Homo sapiens: one gene and its partners. The protein of the gene in region 6 purifies or fractionates together with the protein of the main gene of each other region. This does not show direct contact. Each region holds a gene or a part of one and is shown on either strand. Other genes may lie near its edges.

Region 1 (3,500 bases), about 54 Mb from region 6:
TTATCTCAATTTTATGGCTGCATAGTATTCCATGGTACATATGTACCACATTTTCTTTATCCAGTCTGTCACTGATGGGCATTTAGGTTGATTCCACGTCTTTGCTGTCGTGAACAGCGCTGCAATGAACATTTCCTTGCATGTGTCTTTATGGCAGAATGATTTATATTCCTCTGGGTATATACCCAGTAATGGGATTGCTGGGTCGAATGGTAGTTCTGCTTTTAGCTCTTTGAGGAATCACCATACTGCTTTCCACAATGATCGAATTAATTTACACTTCCACCAACAGTGTATAATTGTTACCTTTTCTCTGCAACCTTGCCAGTATCTGTTGTTTTTTGGCTTTTTAATAATAGCCATTCTGATTGGTGTGAGAACCACAATTTCATTGTGGTTTTGATTTGCATTGCTCTAATGATCAGTGATATTGAGCTTTTTCTTCATATGTTTGTTGGCTGTATGTATGTCTTCTTTTGAGAAGTGTCTGTTTATGATAATTTAAATTATAAAAATCAAATTGGCATTTACATTTTATTCTCCTAACAGATAAATATTATTTCTCTCAAGACATGGGCTTTAACTTCTGTTTTATGAGCACATATCAGCAACCAAATACTTCTTTGGGGAAATTCCGTCATTTGTAACAACATGGATGAAACTAGAGGACATTATGCTAAGTGAAATAAGCCACACACAGATGTCTTTGATGTGGAACCTCATGCAATATTTGCCTTATACTGACTTATATGTGGAACTTAAAAAAGTTGAAGTAGAGAGTAGAATAGTGGTTACCAGAGGGCTGCTAGACGGGTAGGTGCAATGGGGAAATATTAATCAAGGTCTCAGAAGGAAAATGTTTTAGACATCTATTGCACAACATGGTAACCATAGTAAATAATCATGTATCATATATTTCAAAACTGCTAAAAGAAGAGATTTTAAATATTCTCACTATAAAAAAGTAAGTATGTGAGGTGATGGATATGTTAATTTACTTGATGTACTAATTCCACAATGTATATATATAAAATATCACATTGTACCCCATAAATATACTTATCTGTTGATTAAAAATGAATGTTTTTAAAAATAAAATTAAGGCAAGTTCAAATGTAATTTTGAAAAATGAAAACAAACACCTCTTTTTGCAATAAGCAAAAGAAAGAAGCAACCCTGTTTCTTTTGACTTTCAATTTTACCCTGTAGATGAAAAATCATGTTAATGTCCTACAGAAAAACTTCCATCTCTATCATGAGAATAACACAGATAGCATCGCAAATTAAAAATTCCCTTTTCTCCCTCTAAGTTGTATTTCAAGGTCCAGTTGCCTGGAGACATTCTGAAGGTCCCAGGAATCAGTGGCAGTCCTTGTTATTCCTAAAAAACTCTGTATAATTCATCACTTAGTACGTGCACCCATGAGGAAAGAAGATGTGTCTCATATCCCTAAATATTCCCTTAAGTGCCTTAAGTAAATGTTGACAATCCAATTTAACTAATATTTCCTTAGCACCTACTTAGTGCCCACTACTATAGGTGCTACAAGCCAGCAATGCTCAGATGGATAAGCTATATAGTCCTTGCCCTCAGTGAGTTCACGGTCAATTTTGAAAAAGTAACATCAGAATATAATTGTCCTATAGGATGGGCAAGGTGGCTCATGCCCATAATCCCAGCACTTTGGGAGGGCAAAGCAAGCAGCTCACTTGAGGTCAGAAGTTTGAGACCAGCCTGGCCAACACGGTGAAACCCGTCTCTACTAAAAATACAAAAATTAGCCAGGCATGGTGTCAGGTGCCTGTAATCTCAGCTACTTGGGAGGCTGAGGCAGGAGAATCACATGAACCTGCGAGGCAGAGGTTTTAGTGAGTAGAGATCACACCACTGCACTCCAGCCTGGGTGACAGAGTGAGACACCATCTCAAAAAAAAAAAAAAAAAAAAAAAAAAAAAATATATATATATATATATATATATATATATATATATATAAATTGTCATATATTCTTAAGGGTTAAAGTAGGTTTCATTTTTTTCTCCTTGCATTTCCAGGTTTCTCTTCTAGATTTTCCTACCTAACTACTACTTAGCATTTAGCCCCATTTTAACTGAATAAAATCTCAAGCTACCACTTTCTTTTGATTAGATCAAGCACTGACACAGGCTTTATTTTTATCAGGTGAAGATATGTCTGTAAAGTATATGGTGGGACGTGATGAAAACAGTCAGTGTGATCCTTGTCATCAAAGGAAATACCAAGCTACATCATTAGAATTTAAGAAGCAAGCAACTACAGACACCTAGGAAGGCCCTCACTGGTCAGCATCACATCAAACCTTGTCTAGCATCAAGCCATACAAAGTATTTCCCTTCTCCTAATGTACAAATTATACTTTATCAAACAAAGCTTAGTTATATCTGTTTCAATTTAAAAAACAAGCAAAACAAAAAGTGGAACTGACTTTACACTTTTGGGGACAATATCTACTTCCCCTTTCCTTCTAAAAATTAAATTTAAAACTAAGTTGAGGCCAGGTGTGAGCCATCAGCACTTTGGGAGGTTGAGGCGGGCGGACTGCTTGAGCATGAGAATTCGAGACTAGCCTGAGCAACACAGTGAGACCATGTCTCTACAAAAAATACAAAAAAATTAGCTGAGTGCAGTGGCTCACGCCTGTGGTCCCAAATGCTTGGGAGGCTGAGGTGGGAGGATCGCTTGAGCCCAGGAGGTTGAGGCTGCAGTGAGCCATGATCACACCATTGCACTCCAGCCTGGGTGAGAGAGTGAGACCTCATCTCAATCAATCAATCAATAAAACTAAGTTGACATAATAAATAAAAAGGCTGATAAAAACAATCACAAACAACTCACAACAAACCATCAGGCTTTACTTTATTAAAAGCCTTGCCCACACATGGCCATTAAAAACAGTTCCCACAAAACTATCAGCTCTCTAAATTGTAAGCAGGGTCTTTATTTCTGCTCCTTCAGGATCCCTCCTTCCTTACCTCATCCATACCCCTTCCAGAAAGAAAAGAATGCCCTTGTGAAGAAGGGGTGGGCCTCCAACCACTGGGGTTTTGTTCTGAGTCTGGAGAACAGCCCCAGAGCCAAGCAGAGAAATCAAGAAGCTAAGAATGCTGGAACTTACCCAGACTCCCTCAGGAGGAGCCAACTCCATCTCAGAGTCACACCAATGGTAGGCCCAATGGATGACACAGGGATGGCTTTGCTGCAAGGATGCAATATGGACTACCATAGGTCTGGCTGCTTCCTTCTACTCAAAGCTACTATAAACTTGGAGTTGGATGAGACAGAACTAGGGGAGAAACAACTGGAAATGCCCACCTCTATTTTACAACCCAGAATATTAGAAGGGAAAGACACCTGTGAAGTGACATGGTCCAGCTGTCTCATCTCACACATGGAGAAATGAAGCCCTAAAAAGTAAATGACTTGTCCAAAGTCATACAGCTCATCAGTGACATAAACCTCA
Region 2 (3,500 bases), on a different chromosome or scaffold from region 6:
TGGGCGGATCACTTGAGGCCAGGAGTTCAAGACCGGCCTGGCCAACATGGTGAAACCCCATCACTGCTAAAACTACAAAAATTAGCTGGATGTGGTGGTGCACGCCTGTAATCCCAGCTACTCGGGAGGCTGAGGTATGAGAATCACTTGAACCCAGGAGGCAGAGGTTACAATGAGCGAAGATCATGCCACTGTGCTCCAGCCTTGGTGGCAGAGTGAGGCTCTGTCTAAAAAAAAAAAAAAAAAAAAAAAAACTAAAGTGTTTAGAAGAATGCCTGAAACAGTAATTACCAGTGTTCACTTTTATTTGTTATTATATACGCTTATTTAAGAATTCGTACAATACAGAAAGGTACTGAGTGCATCATAATCCCTGTGCTTTTTAAAAACTTTTGTCTCATTTTAGTTAGAAGAACCCGAAGAACCTAAAGTGCTAACACCAGAAGAACAATTAGCAGATAAACTGCGGCTAAAGAAATTACAGGAAGAGTCAGACCTCGAATTAGCAAAGGAAACTTTTGGTAAGACGGGATTATGATTGCAATACAGTATTAAACTGTTACAGGTGAAGACCCAGAAAGTTCAGAAAACATCTCCTTTTCTTAAAAGAAACATACTGGCTAATGTAGATATTAGAAAGCAGTTTTTAATCTCTGTGTATATTTGAGATTTCATTACATGTTCAGATTTTTGAATAATTGTTTTGAGTAAAAGATTATTAAGATAAGTCATTTATAGCAATGCAAGAAGGGCAAAAAGGAGTAGACTCAGATGAAGTACACTACTGCATAGAATATTTTTATCAGCTGGATGAAATTTGCATGAAATGTGAGGTCTGTAGCTTTGAAATGGACTGTAGGGCTGTCCTGTTGTCTTAAGACTTAGACAGTAGGATGTTGCTCCAGGTGAGAGGCATGCAGCTTTTGCTGTGCCTTCTTGTGCTCAGTGTCATTTCCTTCTGCAACCCTTCTTTGCCCTTACCATGCCCTATCTTTAGAGGGCCTCCATTTCTTTGTGCGGTGTCTGCAGCTGTGGTTAGTGCGTGAGATAAAAGTGCAGGATCCTATAAATAGATAAATTCAGAGTGTTCCAGAGTAAGAGACATGGCTAGAGAAATAGTCAAAGCCCTCGCTTCATTTAACCAAGTTATCGTTACCTGTTGAGTACTTTTCAGAGTAGAAGATCATGTTGAAACAGTTAAATCACTGAAATTTATAACCAAGAAGGAAAGCTCTAGTTATTCTGATACCCCTCCCCCACTTTCATACTTTCTCTACTCTGAAACAGATCAACAGGCTGACTGTAGTGATTGTTTTCCTTTTCATGAGGAAGTATGACCTTATCTGTCAGTGGATCTGTACAAATACCAGGAGTTGATGTGAATGCTCCTGTGCACCATTGTATGCTTGGCAGGTCTTAACTGCACTCATCTAATTATAGAGAGCTCTTGGCTGTTAATATGTGTCTTCCTAGGATGGTAAAAGCTGCCCATGTGTTTATTAAAGAGGCAGGTTTATGAAGTGTGCATAAAGCCTAGCATGGGACACCTGTTATAGACTAAAAGGTAAAAACATGCATTCATATAGTCATTGTTAATAGGATTTTACTGTTGTGTTTCTCATACTAAAATACCACATGTAATATTGTTAATAACTAATCTACTTGACATGGAGGATACAGAAGCATACTTATCTTAGTGTAAAACTCATCTAGGCCAGATTTTTTTTTTTCTAACAGGGTCTGGCTCTGTCATCCAGGCTAGAGGACAGTGGCTGAGATCGGCTCACTGCAACCTCTGCCTCTGGGCTCAAGCCATCCTCCCACCTTAGCCTCCCAAGTAGCTGGGACTACAGGCGCATGCCACCACGCCTGGGTAATTTTTGTTTTTTGGGGCTTTTTTTGTAGATACAAGGTTTCACCATGCTGCCCAGGCTGTTGTTGAAGTCCTGAGCTCAAGTGATCTGCCGCCTTGGCCTCCTAAAGTGCTGGGATTACAGGCATGAGCCACCATGCACAGCCTAGGCCAGATTTCTTCTATTGGGATTTAACATGTTTACCCCCGCTTAGCTTCTGGAGTTAGACAAATACTTTCACAGGATCCATCTTTGTTTCTTATTCTTTTTGTTCCCTCTCTCCCCACTTTACTGTGGGGGTGTTCTTGGACAAGAACAGAGTATCCCTTTTGTAATGTAATATGTTGTGTTTTGTTTTTAGAGAAAGGTTCTTGCTCAGTCATCCAGTCTGGAATGCAGTGGCATGACCATAGCTCACTGCAGCCTCAAACTCCTGGGCTCAAGCAATCCTCCCACCTCAGCCTCCCGGGTAGCGAGGGCTACAGGTGAATATCACCACACCTGGCTAATTTTATTTATTTTTTTGAGACAGAGTCTCACTCTGTCACCCAGGCTGGAGTGCAGTGGTGCAGTCTCGGCTCATTGTAACCTCCGCCTCCTGGGTTGAAGTGATTCTCGTGCCTCAGCCTCCCAAGTAGCTGGGATTACAGATACATGCCACCACCATGCCTGGCTAATTTTTGTATTTTTGGTAGAGACAGGGTTTCACCATGTTGGCCAGGCTTGTCTCTCGGACTCCTGACCTCAGGTGATCGGCCTGCCTAGGCCTCCCAAAGTGTTGGGATTACGGGTGTTAGCCACTGCGTCTGGCCACACCTGGCTAATTAAAAAAATTTTTTTTGTAGAGATGAGGTCTTGCTGTGTTGCCCAGGCTGGTCTCAAACTCCTGGCCTCAAGCGATCCTTCCTCTTAGGCCTCCCAAACAAAACACTGGGATTACAGGTGTGAGCCACTGTGTCTGGCCTTGATATATTGTTTTTAAATGAATAAAATACTTATTTATAAAGAAAACCTGTTATATATAAATAGATGTCAAAATACTAAAATGACAAATTTGTGATACAGAATTATATGCTTCCTTATCGATGCATTAAATCAGGTGTAGTGGCACGTCAAATAATGTCATTTGAGAGTAATTATGACTGAACAATATTAATATTGTAAGATATCTGTAATGGCAGGAGAGTGTGATCTCTCCTGGTAAGTCAAGTTTTGCTAATACCACTGTGATTTGTTGCCAGTCAATTGAAACTGAAGGAAATGCTGAATTAGAGGTTAATAAAGATGTAACTTTTTTTCTGATTTAAGTTTGTAACCCCCCTCCCCCCTCACCCAGCCATTCTATCCAGTGACTCCAGTGGCTCCAGGTTCAGAGCCCCTGCTTTAGAATGAAACGACAGGGTTATTCAGATAGCTATTGGCTTTGTAAGGTTTCATTTTTAAAAATCCTAACCTCCTGATACTTTTCAGTGCTTCTTTTCTCCTACAGGTGTTAATAATGCAGTTTATGGAATAGATGCTATGAACCCATCTTCAAGAGATGACTTTACAGAGTTTGGAAAGTTACTAAAAGATAAAATTACACAATATGAAAAGTCACTATATTATGCCAGTTTTTTGGAAGTCTTAGTTCGAGATGTGTGTATT
Region 3 (3,500 bases), on a different chromosome or scaffold from region 6:
CCATGCCTGGCTAATTTTCTAATTTTTTCGTAGAGATGAGGTCTCACTGTTTCCCAGGCTGGTCTCTAATGATTCTCCTGCCTTGGTCTCCCCAAAGTGCTGGGATTACAGGTGTGAGCCACTGTGCCCAGCCAAGTTCAGCTTTTTCTCAAGGGGTAAAGGATAAACCCATTTGGTTACTTGCTGGAGTAGCACTTTGGAGTTACTGAGGGCTGCCCTTAGCCACTGTGCTGGTTTTATCTCAGGGCTGCTTTCTGGAGAGCTTTACAGATATTGTCTCACAGCTGCATTTGCAAGCAGGAAATACTTCTGCTTCCACTTCTGCTTTCTCTCCTTTTTTGGTAGAGGCCCTTTTAGTCTTCTGATCCTTACCCTTCTGGGTTTAGGAAGTTTTGCTGGCAGTAACATGGACTAATGCCCTTTATATAAGATTTTGTTCCTTTGTTGAGAATTTGTTACTGGCCCAATGGCAAAGGGTTCAATAGGACTTAATAGAAATTTTTCATGAAGTCAGTTAAAGTGAGAGTAAGGCTGCCTAGCCAATGCAGGTATTACGTAGGGCAGTCATTGCATGTCTAACCACATACGTCTACCAGTTCTGACTTCTCCATTGCTGGTTTTGAGCTGGAATGATTGCAGGCAAAATTTATTAAGTTGCATATCTACACAAGCCTTTCCTTTCTTCCATCCTTCATCAATCAACAAACATTTATTAACTACTCTTTTTAAGGAAAACTACACCTTCCTGTGAGTGAAATGTGTCCCAGAACAACAGGCACTTCCTTATCCTTCTAGCAACATGGAATTAAGCATGACAGTGTTTTGATATATCCCACCATTATCCCATCACTTTACAGTTGAGGAAACTAGGTCTTAGGCTAAATAACCTTCCCAGTTAATACATAAGAAGAGAGGGGACTTGAACCGTAGGCACAATGCTATTTCTATAATTTAAGGCTGATTGTTTCCCCCTAAGGGAAAGTTTTTAAGTTTGCTTTTGGTCAGGGTGGGCATATTTTGACATAAGGCATTGTCTCATAAGGCAGTTAAGTTTCTTAGTCTTTAGAGTTCCACAGTGATACTTAAGAGCTCTCCTCTCTACCATGGTTTTATGCACAGAATGTCTGCTTTTATCAGTTTTACATATTAGATTGTGTTTAAGGTCTACTTTGAAAAAAGTTTCAATAAGCAGCAAGTGGTCAAAAGAAAAAAAAAAGTTTTGGTACTTAAAACAGTTTGAGAAACATTGCTATGAGAGATAGAGATAGAATCCAGAGTCTCTATCTTAGTGGAGTTTGGTCTGATTAGGGTAATAGACTAGGTTGTATATACATAGAAGCTGGTGATGATAGAAAAGCTGCCATTGAGCGGAGCCTAAGAAACACCACGGGTAGGAGAATGTGAGCCCATAGGAAAGAAGGGTTCTGGAGTCACCACTGTTATGTACCCGGATCACCTGTGACAAGTTCTTCTTTAATCCTCCCAGGGATAAGAAGCATGTAGACTGGGTCAAAGCTTATTTAAGTATATGGACAGAGCTGCAGGCTTACATTAAGGAGTTCCATACCACCGGACTGGCCTGGAGCAAAACGGTTAGTGAATCCTTCCTCCCTCCCTCCCTCCCTCCCACTTTCTCTCTCCAGCATGGGGTCCACAGGTTTCTTAGACTTCAGCACTACCAAAGTCTGTGAGGGAATGCTAGTTTTTTCAGTGGAAGGGAGGAAGAAAAGGAGGAGAAAGAAAGGGTAAAAAGAGTAGAGGAAGCAAGGATCAGAGGAGAAGGAATATTCAGTGGTATTCAATTTCAATAAATATGTTAGGGACAGTGATTGGTGCTGGAGCAGGAGACACACACAAATGAGTTACACTATCCCAGCCTTTAAGGAGCTTAAAAATAAGAATGCAAAACCCCAATACAAATCACCAAGCCAAATGCTATAATAAAGATACAGACTAGAGTATGAGGAAGAGAAGAGTGCTTCTCACTAGAAGAGATTGTACTTTGAAGGTATATACTCTTCTGTGAGACTTGAAAGTAGTATAGGGCAGTGAGAAGTGGGATACTACAAAAGGCACAGCTTAAACAAAATACATGCAGAGTAAATGTAGAGATTGGTCATCTCTGGCTTCAATAAGGGGAAATGATCAGAATTTTAGGAGAAAAGGCTGGAAAGGAAGGTAGGCTGAGACTTTGGGATGAGGTATTTGAGCAAGGGAGTGATAATGATTCAATTTGTCTTTAAAAGAGTCTCAGTGTATAGGTTAGGGATAAGGACTCATGCTCAGATTATGAAAGTGGTCATGGTGTTTGGGGGATAGTAGAAAAACATTTGCAGGAGATAGCACCAAGATAATAGAGATTTGATAAGGTCGAAGAAGTTGGAATCCTCAAAGAAGATTGAATAGTCAGTCTTGGATAGTAACATCTTTCACTGAAATAGGGACAAGGGGATGATTGTACAGGGAGAGGAGCGGCAGGAAATGATGAAATCAGTTTTGAATCTGTTGAATCAGAGGTACTGGTAACACACTAAGGAAGATGTCAAGTAGATTTGTGGAAATAGTTTTTAGAGCTGGAATCAGGTGAGTTCAAAGGCAAAATGTGATGGTCAAGAAATAGAACTGAGAGCTGGATCCTTGGGAAAGGGTGAGAAGGCATAAAGCCAAGTTGGGTATGGGTAGGACACATTAATCATTGCCTCAAAGGCTGTGGTGGGGACCCCATGTGCACTGGCCCATGTAGGGCACTACTGGGAATGGTACAGAGGGGAGCAGAGAGGATGATGATGTTACCTGCACTTATTGTTCCAGGGGCCTGTGGCAAAAGAACTGAGCGGACTGCCATCTGGACCCTCTGCCGGATCATGTCCTCCTCCCCCTCCACCATGCCCCCCTCCTCCCCCAGTCTCTACCATTTCATGCTCATATGAGTCTGCTTCCCGCTCATCACTGTTCGCGCAGATTAATCAGGGGGAGAGCATTACACATGGTGAGTGAGCACTTGGACACGAACAGTAGGTACAACAAGTTGTGTGGGCCAGACCCCACCAACCAGAACCGTCTGTAAACTACAACCCTGGCTTGTGTGGTGGAGACTCGTTTGGTGTGTCCTGTTCCTTTAAGGGACGGCAAAGCTGGCTTAAATGGAAATTGAAAATGATGATCACAGTTGGAGGAAGCCATCTGCCCCATGGGAAAGTGACTTAATATTAGGTAGCATATATAGAGGACCCTCTTGTGCCAAGGCACAGAGCTGGCGGTTTTCCCCAGAGCTTTTTCCGTGGCACCACATGGCCTCTGGGAAGGCATTGTGTTAGGGAGTTAACTTCCTCAGAAGATGCATACTGGTTACATGGAAAATTTGCATGAGAGTGACCTAATGTTGGTATAAAGTAGATACCCTTAACACAGCTGGTGGAAGTCTGAGTTGTCCAGCCACTTCTAGGAATCTATGATCATAGTAGCTAAAAATGGTGTAACAACCTAAATCCAACTGTAAG
Region 4 (3,500 bases), on a different chromosome or scaffold from region 6:
TGTTTAAAGTTAATGTTTCCCCAGCAGCATTTAGTACAAGCAGTAGAATGCTCTAGTGGACTTAACCATAGCTAAATAAAACTTAATATTCTGTGTCTGTATTTGTTCTTTTCTCTATTCCATATCCTTTAAATTTCAACTCTTAAAACACTGTTGGTTCTGCCTTCACTTTTATTTCCATAAACTCTAAAGTCCTAGTGTCTATAAACTTACTTCATATAAAGCAGCTGTATTAGAAATATAATTAATGTGAGCCACACATGATTTGAAATTTTTTAGAAGCCATACAAAAAAAGGAACCATGAAATGTTAATAGTATAATTTATTTAACCCAGCATACCCCAAATAGTATTATTTCAACATAATCAATATAAAAACTAATAATGAGACATTTTATATCCTTTTTAAAATTTGTACTGTGCCTTCAAAATGTATTTTACACTTTAATAGCACATCTGAATTTGAACTAGCTACATTTCAGTGCTTAACAGCCATATACAGTAATAGATAATGCAGATCAAGAGAATTTCCAACTTTGTTTTACAGGTATTTACATACATCTTTGTAGCCACTCTTAGAGCTAAGTTCCATGGAAGAAACATGTTCTTGAGTACTTACTGTAGTTCAAGGGCACACTGAAGTGTTGTATGTAATTTTGTCATTTAGGCAGGGTGGTGGTTTTCCTATTCACTTCTCTCATACGTAAGAAGTATAAACTCATCCTTCCTTCTGAGAGTTTAGGAAATAATGTTATTGACAATCATCATCAAAACAACCATGTCTAGTGAATTAGAATTGCAATTCTAGATATTTCTTCACTCCACCCTTTTCTTTCTCTTCCCCCCACCCTTTTCTTTCTCTTCCCCACCTCCCGCCAGTAAAGGAAAATTTTTTGTTAGTTAATTGCTAAACTGAATATGTACCACATAGTACATTGCTTAGTTCTTGCACTGCTTTTCTCCTGTGTCGTTTGAATGACTAAGATACCAACTTTCCACAGGAAAGTGATGACCCCATGGCTTATATTCACTTTACTGCTGAAGGGGAAGTTACCTTCAAATCAATTTTATTTGTACCCACATCTGCTCCACGTGGTCTGTTTGACGAATATGGATCTAAAAAGAGCGATTACATTAAGGTGAGTTTTTAAGTAGTACATGCTGCGTTTAAAATTTGAAAGTTTAATTTCCAGAAAGTGACTTTTTTTTGGTCTCTTTAGCTCTATGTGCGCCGTGTATTCATCACAGACGACTTCCATGATATGATGCCTAAATACCTCAATTTTGTCAAGGGTGTGGTAAGTATCTGAAGTTTGGGAGAAGGGGTGATTGTTGTGGGGGTCTGGCAGTGTAGAGTGTTTGTTTGGCTTTGCTTTCTTCCAGTGGTTTTATTGCTCACTGAACTTTCTTTTGCCATCTGAAGGTGGACTCAGATGATCTCCCCTTGAATGTTTCCCGCGAGACTCTTCAGCAACATAAACTGCTTAAGGTAAGTGTCTCTGGGAAGAAACTCTCCACTTTGCTGTTTGATTGGGGTTCAGAGGACAGGCTCCATTTGTGGAGTAAAACCAGATTTTGGGTCTGGTCCATGATTCTTCAGATGAATTTCCTTTCTTTCTGGAGTTATCAGATCCTAAGAATCTGATTCTTTTTCTCCCAACATTTAATAATGAAGTTTCAAACATCTAGAAAAAAATTAAAGAATTGTACAGGTCCAGGATTAACATTTTGTCATCTAGACACATAGCCACCTTTTTATCAAGCCTTTCATTAAACCTTTCCCCTCCAATACTTCCATAATTAGAAGACTCTTTAGTTTTTGAATTTAAAAGTATTTGAAAGTAGCATATTTGTTCACTTCATTTAGATGCTAGAGAGAGAGTATCACTGAGTCCTAAGGTTAGAATATAAACATTAAGGCAATCTTGTGGCTATTTGCACGGACAGCTGAATTTCAGCCCAATCTGAATGAATTGGAGTGCTTCACCATTTCCTGCCCCTCAATAAATGGCAATAACGATATCGTCTTTGTGTTTTTCACACTCCTGCCTGGGTACCTTACATTCTCAAAAGTTGGAGATTAACTTCTCTAATCAGTTATTCTTTCATTGTGTTTAGGTGATTAGGAAGAAGCTTGTTCGTAAAACGCTGGACATGATCAAGAAGATTGCTGATGATAAATACAATGATACTTTTTGGAAAGAATTTGGTACCAACATCAAGCTTGGTGTGATTGAAGACCACTCGAATCGAACACGTCTTGCTAAACTTCTTAGGTTCCAGTCTTCTCATCATCCAACTGACATTACTAGCCTAGACCAGTATGTGGAAAGAATGAAGGAAAAACAAGACAAAATCTACTTCATGGCTGGGTCCAGCAGAAAAGAGGTGAGATGAACTCATAAGTGTTGTCAGCCATTCTGGAAGGTAGCTAGGGATTTATAGCCAACTCTTGAGGGGGAGAAAAGGAAAACTTAATTGTGTAACTGGAGTAGTTATAAGGCCTGGTCAGTCACTGACAGGAAGGTCATTTATATTCTCTGAACCTCTTAATTCTTCACCTGTAAAATGGAGTTTTTAATAATGTATAAACATAGCAGCTGCTAGGATAAACAAATACACCAGGGCCAGACTTGGAAAACTTTGTGACTTCTTAATTTTGTAGGCTGAATCTTCTCCATTTGTTGAGCGACTTCTGAAAAAGGGCTATGAAGTTATTTACCTCACAGAACCTGTGGATGAATACTGTATTCAGGCCCTTCCCGAATTTGATGGGAAGAGGTTCCAGAATGTTGCCAAGGAAGGAGTGAAGTTCGATGAAAGTGAGAAAACTAAGGAGAGTCGTGAAGCAGTTGAGAAAGAATTTGAGCCTCTGCTGAATTGGATGAAAGATAAAGCCCTTAAGGACAAGGTACTGTGGAAATTACAAATTGTGGAAATATTAGTATCAGCATTTAAGAGAAAGTTATTTTGTGAACAAATTAAGCTGCAGCTGGTTACTTTGTAACCATTAGAATGGTAAAAATTTAATTAATGTAATTAAATTATTGGGAGAAAGCTTAAAACTTTCGACAATACTGCTTTGTTAATAACTTGTTACAAATTAAATTTTATGTTTTTAAAAGGTGGTATTTAAACTTCTGACTAGAAAATTCAGATTATCAAGTAAGTGCCCCTACAAATTCTCCTAAACCTTAAGAAAAGCTATTTTTATGACCTGCTTCTGTGTTTATGATCTTAAGTGATAAAGTCTTAGACAGTTGAAAGACAATTGCTCAATGACCTTACCTGTTGATATTAATTTATATGACTTGATTTCTTTCCCTAAGATTGAAAAGGCTGTGGTGTCTCAGCGCCTGACAGAATCTCCGTGTGCTTTGGTGGCCAGCCAGTACGGATGGTCTGGCAACATGGAGAGAATCATGAAAGCACAAGCGTACCAAACGGGCAAGGACATCTCTACAAAGTAAGCATCCTCGGGAAAGTCCCTGCCAGGGCGTT
Region 5 (3,500 bases), about 110 Mb from region 6:
TACTGGTGGCATTATATCTGTCCTCTGGAAACATGGTGAAGACTATATTTCCTGACACCAAAGAAGGGAAAACAGGGCTCAAGAAGGTAGCTCACCATTTAACAGCTTGTGGTGAAACCCACCAGAATGGTGCAACACTGCATGGAGTTGATGTGTTGGAAAGTCAGGCTCTCCCACAGTACCTACCAGAGGACAGCGGGGCCGCTCACAGGAATGCTGGAATCCCCATCCAGCAACCCAGAGGGCATGCATGGCTATAGACTTAAAGATGCACCACCTTTTTTTTTTGAGGCGGAGTCTCTTTCTGTTGCCCAGGCTGGAGTGCAGTGGCACGATCTCGGCTCACTGCAAGCTCTGCCTCCCGAGTTCATGCCATTCTCCTGCCTCAGCCTCCCGAGTACTGGGACTACAGGCACCTGCCACCACGCCCGGCTAATTTTTTTTGTATTTTTAGTAGAGACGGGGTTTCACCATGTTAGCCAGGATGGTCTCGATCTCCTGACCTCGTGATCCGCCCGCCTTAGCCTCCCAAAGTGCTGGGATTACAGGCGTGAGCCACCGTGCCCAGCCAAGGTGCACCACCTTTAAATGCAAATTTTTGCATTTTTAGTAGAGATAGAGTTTCACTGTGCTGGCCAGGCTGGTCTCAAACTCCTAGCCACAGGTGATCTGCCTGCCTCAGCCTCCCAAAGTGCTGGGATTACAGGCATGACCCACTGCACCTGGCTGGGAAAATTGTTATAACATGGATTAAGCAGGAATACTATGATTACACACACACACACACACACACACAACGCGCACACACACACACACACACACACACACACCACCCCCTCACCTCTCCCAAGGGGAAAATGCATTGAAAAGGACTAGAAGTAAATATGTTATTCCAGGTTCTCTGGGCAAGGAGTTGATAGGTAAGGATTTGAGATGGAATAAAGGGGATATTTCATGGGAGCCTTGGTGCTGGTGTTTGGACCTGGTGAAATGACAGAAGAGCTGTCTGGAGCATGCATGGACAGGGTCTGCACAGAAAGACCTGTGGGGTGTGGAAATGGTGGTTTGGTCTGGCTGGAGGTGGGGTTAGAAGTGAAGGCTGGTGGCCGGGCGTGGTGGCTCACACCTGTAATTCCAGCACTTTGGGATCCTGAGGCAGGCGGATCACCTGAGGTCAGGAGTTCGAGACCAGCCTGACCAATATGGAGAAACCCTGTCTCTACTAAAAATACAAAATTAGCTGGGCGTGGTGGCGCATGCCTGTAATCCTAGCTACTCCAGAGGCTGAGGCAGAAGAATCACTTGAACCCGGGAGATGGAGGCTGGGGTGAGCCAAGATCGTGCCAGCCTGGGCAACAAGAGTGAAACTCTGTCTTAAAAAAAAAAAAAAAAAAAGTGAAGGCCAGGCGTGGTGGCTCACGCCTGTAATCCCAACACTCTGGGCTCTGGAAATCTGAGGTGGGTGGATCTCCTGAGGTCAGGAGTTCGAGACCAGCCTGGCCAACATGGTGAAACCTTGTCTCTACTAAAAATACAAAAAATTAGCCAGATGTGGTGGTACACGCCTGTAATCCCAGCTACTCGGGAGGCTGAGGCAGGAGAATTGCTTGACCCCAGGAGGCGGAGGTTATAGCGAGCTGAGATCGTACCACTGTACTCCAGCCTGGGCAACAGAGCGAGACTCCATCTTTAAAAAAAAAAAAGGAAGTGAAGAGCAGGGCCAGGGTGGGTCGAGGGCTCTTTTAAGTACTTAGGGAGATGACCTTGTCTTTGACCAGACTGAGATAGCAGCTTACAGAGGGAGCGAGAAACCCTGAACATGGAGAAGATTTAAAAGGTAGCATGGGGTTGGCTCTGACAGTATACCTTCTCTCTGAATGAGTCTTTTGTGTCCTTCTCTTCAGGTTCAGATTCAGAACAAGAAAGTGGACATCTCTAAGGTCTCCTCCAAGTGTGGGTCTAAGGCTAACATCAAGCACAAGCCTGGTGAGTGGTGCCTCCCTTGCCCACTGGGTCTCCAGGGTATGTCGTCCTGCCATGGGTCAGCTGGGCAGCCAGCTGGCTGGCAAGGGTTTCATCTCTGTGCCTTTAGCATCCCATGAAGACTACCCAGGACACCACAGTCCTCATTCTGTCAGGGAGCAGGAGTTCGGGTGCTAACCTCTAAGTGGAGGAGGAGCAGTTTCTTACAGCAGCCATCTGCACAGGCATTCTCTTGAGTACCTACTGTGTGTGTGGAACTATTGAGCTAGGCCTGGGGAAGTGGTGCACTCTGAGCTGAGAACCTGGATTGGCTCTAAACGAGGATTACAGAAGCTACTGCTGAAGGAGCTGTATAGAGGGCAGTGTTCAGGTCCCACCTATCAGATGCAGGAGCAAAGGGTGCTCCCAACCAGTGAAGCATCAGCCGCTAGCCCTGGCAGGAGAATGGGAGGCGTTCAGCAACTTGCACTAATGCAGTTTCCTTCCAGCAACATGGTTGGCCCAGCGCCCCTGTGGAAGTCGCTGTGCGGAGGCTGGGCTCTTGCCTTGGGTAGTCCCCTAGCAGCCTCGTGTCCTAGTTCCTGGGTCTACAGCAGATTTGTGAGTAGGACTGCTGTAGCAGCAGGCACACTGGCTGGCAGACCTGGTATCCCAGAAGGCTAGCCACCACAGGCCAGATAAGGTGAAGGCAAAACTCTCTTCCCTCAGGGCGGGCGCGGTGTCTCATGCCTGTAATCCCAGCACTTTGGGAGGCCAAAGCGGGCGGATCACTTGAGGTCAGGAGTTTGAGAACAGCCTGGCCAACATGGTGAAACCCTGTCTCTACTAAAAATACAAAAACTAGCTAGGTGTGGTGGTGCATGCCTTTGGAGAATTGCTTGAACCCAGGAGGCAGAGACTACAGTGAGGCGAGAGTATGGCACTGCACTCCAGCCTGAGCAACAGAGCGAAATTCTGTCTCCAAAAAGAAAAAAAAAAAACTCCCTTTCCCTCTCAGCGAAGAGCATGATCCAGTTTAGAATGTGTTCTATTTAGAAAGATCAAAACAGTTCTGTCCTTAACTAACCATTTTTTTCCCCTTTTATCTGGGAAATCTCCTATCAGATACTTCCTTCTCTAATGACACTGAGTCACTTAGGGTCTAGTTTTTGCCAGGGCTGGGTTTCCCAATATGGGACACCGGGAGACCTCGGCCAGAAGCTGTGCGTGGAGGTCTGCCATGTGAGCTGAGAGGAGATGGAAGAACAGGAGAAGGGGCCCAAGGGAAACCACGCTGCTGGGCGCGGGAGGGGCTGGGTACTCATTGAGGGCAGCTCGTCCCGCACCCTTCCCCTTGGTCTCATGGGCACACTCTGGCCAGTGAGCTCTGAACCCTGGGCGTGAGTTCAGACCACTTTCCCTCCCCGTCCTAGCCTGAGGTCACTAGATCCCAGGCCTGCCTTGGTCCATGTCTTTCCTTCCTCAGCGCACAGCCTCGGGGCCACTCTGTCCTTTTTATTATTCCTTCTTTTTGCTAG
Region 6 (3,500 bases):
AGGAGGCCAAGGCGGGAAGATCACCTAAGGTCAGGAGTTTGAGATCAGCCTGGCCAACATGGCAAAACCCCATCTCGACCAAAAATACAAAAATAAGCTGGGCGTAGTAGTGCACATCTGTAGTCCCAGCTACTTGGAAGGCTGAGGCAGGAGAATCGCTTGAACCCGGGAGGCGGAGGTTGCAGTGAGCAGCTTGGGCAACAGAGCCAGACTCCATCTCAAAAAAATAATAAAATAAAATAAAGTAAAAAGAACATGGTCTGCAGTAGGTGTTTTTGTTTTGTTTTTGTTTGTTTGTTTTTGAAACGGAGTCTCGCTCTGTCGCCCAGGCTGAAGTGTAGTGGCGCAATCTCAACTCACTGCAAGCTCCGCCTCCCGGGCTCAAGCAATTCTCCTGCCTCAGCCTCCCTAGTAGCTGGGATTACAGTCGTGTGCCACCCTATGCCTGGCTAATTTTTGTATTTTTAGTAGAGACGGCGTTTCACCATGTTGGCCAGGCTGGTCTCAAACTCCTGACCTCAAGTGATCCACCCACCTCGGCCTCCCAAAGGGTTGGGATTACAGGCGTGAGCCACCATGCCCAGCCTGCAATAGGTATTCAAAATCCTCCCTAAGAGAAAATAATTGTGCCTCGCTATCTACCAAAGACATTGGTTAAAAAAAAGTCTCAGCAGTTACAATGTACAGTATCACCTTCCCTTCTGTAACCAAAATACTTATTAAATATATGAATGCTAGTTATCAGATTATTTTAAAAGTTTATTTTCTTTCTCTAATAATAAGGTAAAATACATTTTGGAAATCTGCATGGAATGTTCCCAACAAGTTATTTCATTTTAGCAGGGTCTATGACATACAGCTTTAGTCATTCTTTCAATTACTTGGAACCACAGAATTCTCCAAAATACAAAAATTAAATTTTCAGCTTTTATATCAAATAATGGTCTCAACCATTTAATACAAAGCAACATACTTTCTCAGGTTTCTGTTAATAAGGCAAAATAAAAGTCACTCAGAAAAAAAAGGTTAAATCATGAAGATTTCTCTTTTGTAGGATATAATTCACCCCTGTGGTTTCTCTTCTACCATTAATGTCTTATCTACTCTAATTCCTTCAAAGTTTCAAGTTCAATACAGTATAACATATGCAGAGATTTTATAGTTTTTATCATAGATTTTTTTTTTCAACATTGTTTTCAGGATGTTTTAAACACTTTCACAACTATTACCTCAGATTTGTGATTATGGCTTATAGTACGGTCTACTTTCAAAACCATGATTTTTGGATCATGGCCCATCCAAGATTTTACTCTGTTCAGAAAAAGAAAAAAAATTACATATCCAGAGTTTCACAAGCAATTCAGGGGTTTTTCCCACAGACATCAAAAACCTTGCAATAAAGGGGTGAAATCCAAAAATTACTTTCGATTTCAAAGGTTTAATATTTTTAAAAAATTGAGAAATCTATTTAAGGTGTTGAATAAACTTTTTATGACTTATCAGGCAAAATTAAAATATTTATCATGGGCAGGGCACGGTGGCTTACACCTGTAATCCCAGCATTTTGAGAGGTCAAGGCTGGACGACTGCTTGAAGCTATGAGATTGGGACTAGCCTGGAAAATATAGCGGACCCCACCTCTATAAAAAATTATTATTTTTTATTAGCTGGGCATAGTGCTGTGTGCCTGTAGTCCTAGCTACCAGAGAGGCTGAGGTGGAAAGATCCTTTTTTGTTGTTGAGACAGGGTCTCACTCTGTCACCCAGACAGGAATGTAGTACCACAATCACTGCTTACTGAAGCCTTGACCTCCTGGGTTCAAGTAACCCTCCCGCCTAAGCTTCCCAAGTAGCTGGGACTACTGGTGTGTACCACCATGCCTGGATAATTAAAAAAAAAAAAGAAGTCATAAAGACAGGTTCTTATTATATTGACCAGGTTGGTCTTGAACTCTTGACCTCAAGTGATCCTCCTGCCTTGGCCTCCTAAAGTGTTGTGATTACAGGTGTGAGCCACAGCATCCAGCCTAAGGAAGATCCCTTGAGCCTAGGAATTTGAGGCTGCAGTGAGCTATGATTGCATCACTGTACTCCAGCTTGGGCAAAAGTGAGACCATGTCTCTAAAAAATAATAATAAAATAAAATAAAGTATTTACAATGGAAGGAATCTGTGGTGTTACTTTTAGGTAATCTCAGAAGAACTTTTCAAACTCAGATGTATATATGCGGCAACCAATGTGCATATGGAGATACTGACATAGAGAGAAAAATGTTCAATCTAATATTAGCCAGTAAACATATGATGCATTAACTGGAGGAGTTAAAAGTCCATACTTGAAGGTACTGTTTAATTTATCAGGATCAATCAATCAAGAAAAACACCCACAACATAAAAACAGGGTGGTATATTTTAGTACTACTGATTTATAATAAACAGATCCTCAGATTTAGGCAGATCATTTTTAAATGCCATTAGTGATCAATGTATGCAACACAGTTGCACATAGCTATTAACAAGTTATTTTGACATGCATTACATACATGTATTCAAATTAACTATAATTTTTTGTGCTTATTTCTAGAGCAAATTAATTAAATGGCTTTCACCTTAAAGGCTTAAAATGTTTTAAAACTTCAAGTCATTAAAGATGTACTGACATTAAAACTATGTTTGAAGGCTGGGCGCAGTGGCTCATGCCTGTAATCCCAGCACTTTGGGAGGCCGAGGCGGGTGGATCACTTGAGGTCAGGAGTTCAAGACCAGCCTGGCCAACATGGTGAAACCCCATCTCTACTAAAAATACAAAAATTAGCCGGGTGTGGTGGTGTGCGCCTGTAGTCCCAGCTACTCAGAGGACTGGGGCAGGAGAATCACTTGAACCCAGGAGGCAGAGGTTGCAGTGAGCCGAGATTGCACCACTGTACTCCAGCCTGGGTGACAAAGTGAGACTCTGTCTCAATTAAAAAAAAAAAAAACTATGTTTGAAAGTATATATAATTTGTAATAATATACACGGGAAGAAATAAAAGGTTATTATGGCAATCTGAGTTTCTTAATCCAAAAATTAAAAATCAAAACACATTTCATATGTAAGAGTTAAGTGGTTTTTTTTCTTTATTCAAGTAATCATTTAGACTCTAATACATGATAATGGACAACCATGTGACAAAGTACTGTAGTGTATGGTTTGGTGTAGCCTCCTTGCCTCTAGGATGGGATTTTTTCCAGGTGATTCTTCAGGATCTGACATCGATGCCCAACACAGGCTTTCCAATGGCAATGCATGAGTTCTAGAGGTCACTGCCCCATCTTTCTTCAGGTGCTGTGTGCCATTTTCTCCCACCCATTTTATCCTCCATTACTTATAAAAACCCCACTCTAAAATTCAACCTATGTTATAAAATTAACAAAATCAGGAGTTAGTACACATTTTTCCACAATGATAAAATTAAGACTCATAATGTACTATCTTGTTTCGTCTAACTTTTGGAGGATTTA
Region 7 (3,500 bases), on a different chromosome or scaffold from region 6:
AATTTATAAGAGCTTGCATTTAAAAAAGAAAGTAACCGCACGGAATGCATTGCTGAACTTGAAGTAAACGTCGTGTTCTTCCATTACGAAAGCCACCTTCTCAAAGTCCTGGCAGAGTTAAGGAAAGAGATGCTGGGAAGGCAAGGCGCCGGAGCCCCATCCTTTCACTCCGGGCAGGGGCAGCTGATGCCCTGCTGGGGGGCAACCCCTCACCCCTCACCCCTCTCGGATCTGCCAAGGCGGCGGCGGTGGGGGTGGCCCGCTGGTCACATACTGCACCGGCAGCCTTCACCTTGGCCTGAATGCATGTGCGGCTCTGCCTGCTGCTGTGGGACAGTGCTGTCGTGGTGTAGACGGTGGCCCTCCTCAAGGCCTCCCAGGCCTGGCGCCCAGGACATGTGACTGTGGCTGTTTTCGTTTTGTTTGGGTTTTTTTTTTTAATTTTAGAGATAGGGTCTTGCCGTGTTGCCCAGGCTGGAGCGCAGTGGTGCAACCATAGCTCACTGTAGCCTCGACTTCCCAGGCTCAAGCGATCCTCTTGCCTCAGCCTCCTGAGTAGTTTGGGCCACAGGTACACGCCACCATGCCTTGCTGATTTTGATTTTTTGTAGAGACAGGGTCTCACTACGTTGTCCAGGTTGGCTTTGAACTCCTGGGCTCAAGCGATCCTCCTGCCTGAGCCTCCCAAAGTGCTGGGATTACAGGCGTGAGCCACCACGTCCGGCCAGAATGATCCGTTATTTCCAGCAAGGAATAGCCTGAGAAGCACGGCAGGCCTTGAGTGGCGTTAGAGAGAAGTGCTGACATCTTGAGTGATGGAGAGGGTGGCCCTCTGGGCAGGGTGTGTCCCACAGGGTGCCTGTTTGGACGTGGGGTCCTTCCTCATGGTGAAATGGGTCTTTTGGGTTCCGTGGTCTCTGTTTGGGGCATCGGGGCACCTGTCCACCTGGGAGGTGGGGGTCAGAGGCCCAGCGCTGGTCCCAGGGCTGTTTTCTGGTGGTGAGACCTGGAGTCCAGGGGCTTTGATGTGAGTGTGAGCAAGAGGGAGTGGGCAGCTGGCCAGGCCACTGCTTCCATCATGCCTGGACCGTGGCACCTTCCTCCTCCCACCGTCAGCCCGTGTGGCAGGAGACTCAAGCTGTGAGTTTCGCCTGTGACTGAGGGCTCAGGGAGAGCCACTGGCATGTGGCAAGGCTGGGGGAAGAGGAGGGGCAGGCGCCCTGTGACTCAGGGTTGTGTCCAGCAGGACCTGTGCACTCTAGCCCCTCCCACACTCTCCCCTGGGCGTGGAGATGCCACGGCAGACACCTGCGAGTCTGTCTGTCTGTCTGTCTGGCCTCTGCTCCTGGCTTTTGATGGGGATGGCCTGAGAGTGCTCTTTGCCTGGGGAGAGGAGGAGGCTCTGACTGGTGTCTGCCAAGGGCCAGTGGCACGTGCCCAGGTTCCTTCCCCTGCCAGGGCCACTTACCGGGTCATCAACACGGGGGGTGTACAGCAAGGGCGACGGTGGCTGGTAACAGGACGATGGTTGGGGAAGGGGTCCCTGGAGGGCAGTGGGCTGGAAGGTCAGGTTCTTTTTTTTTTTTTTTTTTTTTTTTTTTTTTTGAGACAGAGTCTTGCTGTTACCTAGGCTGGAGTGCAGTGGTGCGATCTCAGCTCACTGCAGACTCCACCTCCCGGCTTCAAGCGATTCTCCCGCCTTAGCCTCCCAAGTAGCCCGCCTACTTTTTGTATTTTTAGTAGAGATGGGGTTTCGCCATGTTGGCCCAGCTGGTCTCGAACTCCTGGCCTCAAGTGATTTGCCCGCCTCAGCCTCTGAAAGTGCTGGGATTACAGGCATGAGCCACTGTACCCCGCCGGGAAGGTCTGGTTCTGAAGGCAGTTTCTGGGATGGCGGTTTGGGGAGCCCGTCTCCTTCAGGGGTGAGCACTCCAGAGAAAGCAGGACCCCCACCCCTGGCTCGCAGTGACCTCAGATCCCAAACCTTCCTTCTCTGCTTCTGTGTCCTTGCCTGTGTGTGGTAATCGTGATCCCCGTGGATAGGTGGAGGTTGAGGGAAAACTGGGCCCCAGTGCAGGCCGTTCCTGCACGTCTCCCCGTCCCCACCTCGGCCCTGTGGGCTCCTGGCGCCATCACCTGCCGTTCTATCACCAAGAAGCACTTCCAGGCCCTGCTGAAACCTGGTGCGGGAGGCCGAGCCTGAGGAAGGTGGAGGGAGAGATGGGGGGATGAGGAGGGGACGGCGTTGGGGGCCGGGAGGGCTGCTCCCAGGGAAGGCGGGCGGCAGCCTCGTTGGTCTTCCCACGGCCGGTACCAGCCGCTGGACTCCTCCGCCAACACTTTCCTGACAGGCGCACGGGCTCTCTGATGCAGATGGCGGGCGCCCTGCGCATGCGGTCCCTCCACCTGGAAGGCAGCCCTTCTTCCCTTCATGTCCCCAGATGTTGCTAAAGATTCAGGAGATAGTGGAAATTGGAGTCGTCTCCAAAGGATCTCTTTGGGGAAAGGAGGCTGAGGTCTTGGCTCCTCCTAGCCTGGCCTCAGCGCCTTGGCTCTAGTAAGGAGCCGGAGACTGGGGTGGGAGCTCCGTAAGTCACATCTGCACCACGCCACCCAGGGCCCGCTGCCCTGCCCCTGCCCTGAGCTGGGGCGGCCGCAAAGCCTTAGGTGGCTGAGACCCCACCCAGCTCTGCCTGACAGCTGGGCGTCCTGTGGGGAGGGCAGCGTGAACACTGTGGAGCCGTTTGTGTCTCAAGACCCAGAGAGGCTGCAGTGGAGGTGACTCTGTGGAGGTGGCAGGTGGCTGAGCAGGGCCTCGGGAGCAGGGTTGGGCAGGATGGCCCAGGGTGCTGTGGCGGGCACTGCATTGGGGGCGGCGTGTTGTCCAGCCCTTCTTTCCTGGTGGGTGGCAGGTGCCTCGCTTTCAGTCTAGAGCAGGGAGCTTGCGCCCTGGACTCGGGCTGGACGTGTCGCTGACAGGCCGAGGGGCAGCCGGATCAGTTCTGCTTCCAGGGCCCAGGGAGGCCCGTCCCAGCCCTGCTGCCCCCACCCAGCAGGCAGGCCTGGCCTAGCCCATTCCTGAGCTCCCGGGCAGGGTCAGGCGAGGCCAGGGTGCGGCGGCGGGAGTGAGAATCCACGGAGCAGAGCGTGCGACGCCTGAGCGCCCTCATGATTTCTCTTCTGCTTTTAGTCACCACGTTCTGCGCTTTTCCGAGTCGGACATATGAGCAGCGTGGAGCTGGATGATGAACTTTTGGACCCGGTGAGTTGGGGGTGTTCCCCGTCCTCCCGCAGAGCTAGCTGCATCTTAGCAGAGGGTGACAGGGATGGGCACGGGCCGAGCGGCAGGGAGATAGTGGGGCCCCAGGGCCGGGGTTCAGGGAAGATTTCCTTGGGGGGACATGGTCCCTGACGCCAAGTGAGCAGAGGCAGCTGGGCAGAAGTGCTCTCAGACGGAGGAGTGCAGGGCGCAGGAAGCCGGTCAGGACAGCAGTGACAGC

The links.
Region 1: the proteins of SLC33A1 (region 6) and NXPE3 purify together in Homo sapiens (affinity purification with mass spectrometry; one large-scale study listed by BioGRID and IntAct). This does not show direct contact.
Region 2: the proteins of SLC33A1 (region 6) and EIF3J purify together in Homo sapiens (affinity purification with mass spectrometry; one large-scale study listed by BioGRID and IntAct). This does not show direct contact.
Region 3: the proteins of SLC33A1 (region 6) and CAP1 purify together in Homo sapiens (affinity purification with mass spectrometry; one large-scale study listed by BioGRID and IntAct). This does not show direct contact.
Region 4: the proteins of SLC33A1 (region 6) and HSP90B1 purify together in Homo sapiens (affinity purification with mass spectrometry; one large-scale study listed by BioGRID and IntAct). This does not show direct contact.
Region 5: the proteins of SLC33A1 (region 6) and MAP4 purify together in Homo sapiens (affinity purification with mass spectrometry; one large-scale study listed by BioGRID and IntAct). This does not show direct contact.
Region 7: the proteins of SLC33A1 (region 6) and CLCN7 purify together in Homo sapiens (affinity purification with mass spectrometry; one large-scale study listed by BioGRID and IntAct). This does not show direct contact.

Annotation. Positions count from the first base shown.
Region 1 is NC_000003.12:101,817,211-101,820,710, reverse strand, and holds part of NXPE3 (NXPE family member 3 isoform 1 precursor), read right to left. Parts: intron 1-3,500.
Region 2 is NC_000015.10:44,554,147-44,557,646, forward strand, and holds part of EIF3J (eukaryotic translation initiation factor 3 subunit J), read left to right. Parts: intron 1-406; coding exon 407-521; intron 522-3,342; coding exon 3,343-3,500. UniProt on the Homo sapiens protein: Component of the eukaryotic translation initiation factor 3 (eIF-3) complex, which is required for several steps in the initiation of protein synthesis.
Region 3 is NC_000001.11:40,064,729-40,068,228, forward strand, and holds part of CAP1 (adenylyl cyclase-associated protein 1), read left to right. Parts: intron 1-1,486; coding exon 1,487-1,592; intron 1,593-2,811; coding exon 2,812-2,989; intron 2,990-3,500. UniProt on the Homo sapiens protein: Directly regulates filament dynamics and has been implicated in a number of complex developmental and morphological processes, including mRNA localization and the establishment of cell polarity.
Region 4 is NC_000012.12:103,940,410-103,943,909, forward strand, and holds part of HSP90B1 (endoplasmin precursor), read left to right. Parts: intron 1-1,000; coding exon 1,001-1,138; intron 1,139-1,219; coding exon 1,220-1,297; intron 1,298-1,422; coding exon 1,423-1,488; intron 1,489-2,117; coding exon 2,118-2,387; intron 2,388-2,664; coding exon 2,665-2,910; intron 2,911-3,328; coding exon 3,329-3,465; intron 3,466-3,500.
Region 5 is NC_000003.12:47,855,917-47,859,416, reverse strand, and holds part of MAP4 (microtubule-associated protein 4), read left to right. Parts: intron 1-1,904; coding exon 1,905-1,986; intron 1,987-3,500. UniProt on the Homo sapiens protein: Non-neuronal microtubule-associated protein. Promotes microtubule assembly.
Region 6 is NC_000003.12:155,823,428-155,826,927, forward strand, and holds part of SLC33A1 (acetyl-coenzyme A transporter 1), read right to left. Parts: 3' UTR 1-3,500. UniProt on the Homo sapiens protein: Acetyl-CoA transporter that mediates active acetyl-CoA import through the endoplasmic reticulum (ER) membrane into the ER lumen where specific ER-based acetyl-CoA:lysine acetyltransferases are responsible for the acetylation of ER-based protein substrates, such as BACE1.
Region 7 is NC_000016.10:1,465,029-1,468,528, reverse strand, and holds part of CLCN7 (H(+)/Cl(-) exchange transporter 7), read left to right. Parts: intron 1-3,190; coding exon 3,191-3,262; intron 3,263-3,500. UniProt on the Homo sapiens protein: Slowly voltage-gated channel mediating the exchange of chloride ions against protons. Functions as antiporter and contributes to the acidification of the lysosome lumen and may be involved in maintaining lysosomal pH.